2 separate regions of the Homo sapiens genome follow, and region 1 is linked to region 2. The links come from fine-mapping of genetic effects on gene expression. A gene starts in region 2. The other region holds a variant in brackets. All regions are shown on one strand. Distances are between the middles of the regions.

Region 1 (2,919 bases), 73 kb after region 2:
CCATCCTGAACCCCTAGATGTGCCCCATTAGGAGCTCTAGGGAAGCCCAGCAACTACTGCTGTTAGTGCTGCTACTGCAGAGCCAGAAGTTAAGGCACCAAAAATGGAAGTGTCTTATATTGGATTGAATTCCTCTGAAACAGATCCTGAGACAAGGATGTAAGTGCAAAGCATTTTTTGGGAGGTAATCTCAGGAAACACCCATCAGGAGTGGTAAAGTGAGATAGGGAAGGAAAGGAAGTTAATGAAGGGATGTTACCAAGCCAGTTACCACTGTAGGCAACTGGAGCCCTATCCTACTGGGGAACGTCAGGAGATGATATGGGACATGCTGTCATGAGGCAACTCAGGACAAGGAAGCCAGGTGCTTATGCCCCACCCTTTTACCACTTGCCATTTTGCCTCTGGGGCCTTCCACTCTCTGGCACTTCTAGTTTGCCAGGCATGTAGATGTTCTAAGTGGGCAGCCTTGGATGGGCAGAGGTGAATGCCAAGGGCATGTGGATGGGACCTAGGCAAAGCTCACTGAGGTCTCATCAGCATTCTAGCCTGGCTTGGTGTCAACTGAGCTTCATCCTCATCTTCTGTAAAAGGAAGGGAATGATCCATCTCTCCAGCTAGGTGGTGTGAAGTTAGTGGAGATAAAGGTATGGTGGAGCGGGATGATTGACAATTAGAACTAATGCCAACTCCCCATCTCCTGGCACATTAGAGAGAGATTTAGAAGTCAAACACCAAAGAGAATGCCAGTCAGGTTGACTCCAAGGGGAAATGGCTTTAGATTTAGATCTTGATGAAATTTCTGAGTTGGCTGATGATAGAAGCAGGAGCTCCCCAGCCTGCACACAACTACTGGTCAATTCACACCCAACCCACACCAAACCTCAAGGAAGAAAAATCGCTTTCTTCTCAGCTCCAAACTTTGGTTCAATTATTATTCCCCAGTGGACAGGAACTGCCAGGGAAGAAGGACAAAGCTGCTATGGTAATGAAGGACTGTTTACTGATCAGCAGGAAGGAAGGGCAGCCAGAATGAGGTCAGGAACAGATGAATCTGCCCCATTGGGTGGATGGCATGTGTGATTTATAAGCTCTCTCCCTTGAAGATCCAAAAGTTTCTGAGTGGGGAGGGGAATGAAGAATGAAGGAAAGGACTAAGATAGAGACAGAAGTCTGTTTATTCTTCCCTTTCCGCATTATCAGTCAAGGCAGTAAATTCAGCAAATCTACTCGACACTAATCTTGTTAGACTAATTGACTATAATTCAGTTCACTGTGGGGATAATCAGATTTGTGTAAACTTTCACAATAGTCTCCAAAGGCTTCATATATCTTGACGGATATAGTCTTTAAAATGCCCGTGCCCTGGTCTTAGAATGGGAGAGGAGACACCGCAGGCTGGTGGGAAGGAGCGGCTTCAGAACCCAAAGAGATGCACAGAGCCACCCCTTATCTTAGCCCCGCTTTTAGGCCTTCACTCCACCCCCTCCTGGTGAGCTGGCTCCAAAGCTGATGGATGGGACTGAGACTGGCCTGGGTTGGCAGATAGG[C/G]ATATCTTACGAATGACAGGGTAGTCACCCTGCACCCTTCCAAATCTAATTGTCCGATAATTGCTGATCCAATCAGGAGTGTGTCTGGCATATAATCATCAACAATAAAGGCAATTCTTGTGATTATTAGTCAAGATAATGCATATAAACTTGTTAAAAGGTAAACTTGGGCACACTGAAATTTTAAAGAGTTTATTTGAGTGGACAGCAACTCATGAATCACGCAGGGCCAAATCACAAGCAGTTTGGGTTCCACCAATGGGTGCAAGGAAAAACCTTTTATAAGGTGTTTGGGAAACACAAAGAAAATATTTGCTTGGTTGAAGTGTAAAGTCCCTGCTTGGTCGTTAGCTGGCGGTTTCATATTGGTGAAATCTTTAAAATGAGCATAGTTGGCAGTTTCTGATTGGTTTAGCTTAACTTTCACTTTATGGTTTACGTTGACTTTGATTTTAGTTTGTTTATGTAGGAACTGAAGGTGCTGAAGCCATCTCAGCCTAATGGCCTCTGTGGACAAAAGCAGTCAAACTCTGTAAAATATTTGACAAGGTTTATTCTGAGCCAAATATGAGTGACCAATGGCTCATGACCCAGCCCTCAGGAGATCCTGAGAACATGCACCCAAGGTGGATGGGCTACAACTTGGCTTTATACATTTTAGGGAGACAGAAAACACCAATCAATACATGTTAGATGTACATTGCTTCAGTCTGGAAAGATGGGACAATTGAAGTGCTCTCAGGTAGATTCAAAGATTCTCTGATTGGCAATTGGTTGAAAGAGTTAAGTTATTGTCTAAAGACTTAGAATCACTAGAAAGGAATGTCTGGGCTAAGATAAGGGCTTGTGGAGATGAAGGTTTTATCATGCAGAGAAGGCTGGGCGCAGTGACTCACGCCTGTAATCCCAGCACTTTGGAAGGCCAAGGCGGGCGGATCATGAGGTCAGGAGTTCAAGACCAGCCTGACCAACATGGTGAAACCCCGTCTCTACTAAAAATACAAAAACTAGCTGGGCATGGGGACGTGTGCCTGTAATCCCAGCTACTCAGGAGGCTGAGGCAGGATAATCGCTTAAACCCAGGAGGCAGAGGTTGCAGTGAGCTGAGATCACGCCATTGCACTCCAGCCTGGGTGACAGAGTGAGACTCCATCTCAAAAAAGCAAACAGGCCGGGCGCCGTGGCTCACGCCTGTAATCCCAGCACTTTGGGAGGCCGAGGCGGGCAGATGAGGAGGTCAGGAGATTGAGACCATCCTGGCTAACACAGTGAAACCCTGTCTGTACTAAAAAAAAATACAAAAAATCAGCTGGGCATGGTGGTGGGCGCCTGTAATTCCAGCTACTCAGGAGACTGAGGCAGGAGAATC
Region 2 (2,500 bases):
GGTGGCTCAGGGCCCAGAACTGGTCATCTTCTGCCTTGTCTCTCCCCTTCACATCACCCTAAACCCAAAGGCCTCTTAAACTAAGAGGAAAGTCCCTTCAAATTCACAGAACACCACTTCCTCTCATTTGTCTAATACATTCGCATCCAAAACAGATCTCTGTAAAGAATTATTCAGTTGCAATTAATTACATTACAATTTTTCTGATAAAGAAACTGGGTCTCAGGCCAGGAGTGGTGGCTCACACCTGTAATCCCAGCACTTTGAGAGGCCATGGTGGATGGATCAGTTGAGTCCAGGAGTTCAAGACCAGCCTGGGCAACATAGCAAAACCCTGTCTCTACAAAAAATACAGAAAATTAACCCTGGCTTGGTAGTGCACTACAGACTACCCCTATAGTCCCAGCTACTCAGGTGGCTGACATGGGAGGATCATTTGATCCCAGGAGGTGGAGATTACAATGAACCAAGATCTGGGTGACAGAGTGATGAGATCCTGTCCCCAAAAAATAAATAAATAAAAAAGAAAAGAAAAAGAATGAAAGAAAGAGAAGGAAGGAAGGAAGAAAGAAAGAGAAACAAGAAACTAGGTCTCAGAATTTGGTTCCCATGTTGGTATTCACACTTAACATCCATAGGGACCATTCATAGCCTACTACTGTCCTCCTGCCTAATGCCCACACCCTCATACTTCCTCTAGCCCTCCCAGCCCCTGAGAGCACCACTCCTGGGAGAGGAAGAGATATTTACTATTCCCTCCTAAATATCATTCTAGAAGAGTGCTGCTGAACAGAACTTTGTGCACTGACGGGAATGTTCTACATCTGCTCTGTCCAATACAGCAGTCCCTATCTTCGTGTGGCTATTGAGCATTTGAAATATGGTGCCTACTAATGAGGAACTGAATTTTAAGTTTTATTTAATTAATTTAGATTTAAATTTAAATATCAACATGCCACTAGTGGCTACCGTATTGGACAATGCAGTTCTGCAATCTTCAAAGCTCAAAAACCCTGAGGGTCTAGTCAATCACTCCTCACTCCCAGCTCCTTTCCCCCCAGCACCTCCACCTCCCCTGAGCCAGGGCACTGGGGGCCACAAGACCTTCAGGGTTTTGAGGGACCTCCTCTGAGTTGCCACCACGGAGGTGTCCATCCTCACTGAACCTGCGGGTGCCGGATGTCCTCTCTCCCTTCCTCTTGCCCTCGGCCGCCAGGGGCCGCTGCGTCTCGGCTGTGCCCATCCGTTCAGCCGAGCGCCTGGCACTGTCCCGAAGGAGGCGGCGGCGCCCACGCGGGGCTGGAGGAGCGGGGGTAGCCCGGGGCGAGGCGGCGGTTGCGGCGGCGGCTGCGCGCTCCCCGGCCTGCCGGCAGGAACCTTGGAAAAAACCCGGCTGAGTTCTGCAGAGCTGGCGGGGCCGGGCCCAGAGCTCCCCTGTGCCCAGAGCCCGGCCCGCCCTGCGGATGATGCCAACCTGACCAGAACCCCGCTGTCCCGGGGGCGCAGCAACTTGGTGAAGGGGACAGGGCTCCGGACTAGACAGCACCCAAGCTGGCCGCTCCCTCCCAAAGTCTGTCTTTCGGAGTGCTGGTCCCTGGCTCAGTGGCAAGGAAGACTTCAGGCCAGCAGATCGAACCAGTGGGCATCACCGTGGACCAGGTAGGTCCCAGGTGTGGGGGCTCAGAATGTGGAGGAATGAGTAGGCGTTAGGGGGGTTTGTGGGGAGAGAAGGTGAAGAAAGGTTGAAGATTCTTGTGGTTCACATCCTCAAACCCTTGTAATGCAGGCTGCTAACTCAGCCTCACTAAACCCCTGGATTGGGATTTAGGAAAAATAGGCTAGGAAATTGAGGCAGGAGCATGGAAGTCGAAAAACACATCCCAGAAGCTTCTATGTCCAGCTGTTTCAGGGAGGGAGGGAATAGAATGCCAGGGATGAGAGCCCAAATGAACACCCCCACCCCTCTGCTCCCCACCCCACCAAGGTCTTTTGGGCCTTGGGGTTCCTAGGAGAGATGCCTGAGTTGGATTGGAGGATGTTGCAGCTCAGAGGGAAATAGGATCACCTGAGAGAAGACAAAGCTGCATTTGTGATGGTCAAAAGGAGGGTTCCTGGAGGGCAGGGAGAAGAGATCTCTACTCAGGAAAGAGGCACATCTAGAAGAGTGGGAAGCTCAGCCCAGGGAGCACACCCATCCCCTGGGAACTGGCACCTCTTCTCTGTGTTCCTCCAGATTCCCCTTATGCTCTCGCTCCTAGGAGCTAGGACTCAGGGGTCTCTGTCCTTCCGGGGCCCCACCATCCTATATGTTTCAGTTCTGCCTCCCTTTAGAGAGGTGAGGGAAGAGAGGTTCTTAGGGAGAAATGGAAAGCTATTGGAGGCTGTGGCCTTCAAAGGCTCAGGGACCTGGAGTGTCCCCATTCCAGCCCTCTGGTGTGGGAATGGGGGCAAGGGATGCTAAGCCAAGCCAGCTCCATGTGAGTCCAGGAAGCAGGTGCCA

Alleles and levels. Alleles are on the strand shown, and positions count from the first base shown. SD is a standard deviation of normalised expression in the study named.
With allele C in place of G in region 1, the expression in visceral fat of the gene that starts at base 1,265 in region 2 is higher (moderate effect, 0.61 SD a copy in GTEx).

The links. PIP is the estimated chance that this variant, and not a neighbour inherited with it, causes the effect.
Region 1: its variant is the best candidate, but not a certain one, in a credible set for the expression of TAFA3 in visceral fat (GTEx, PIP 0.50).

What each region holds. Positions count from the first base shown.
Region 1 is chr1:112,789,943-112,792,861 of GRCh38, forward strand. No RefSeq gene overlaps it. Among named protein-coding and RNA genes, the nearest start is that of NUTF2P4, 43 kb to the left of the region's middle. RefSeq lists enhancers at 1,496-2,070, 2,071-2,643. The variant C/G (reference allele first, on the strand shown) is at 1,551.
Region 2 is chr1:112,717,641-112,720,140 of GRCh38, forward strand. It overlaps TAFA3 (TAFA chemokine like family member 3), which reads left to right and starts at 1,265. Exons shown (of 6, transcript NM_182759.3): 1 at 1,265-1,659. PPM1J-DT (PPM1J divergent transcript) reads left to right here. Exons shown (of 2, transcript XR_947714.4): 2 at 1-156. RefSeq lists a silencer at 1,325-1,374.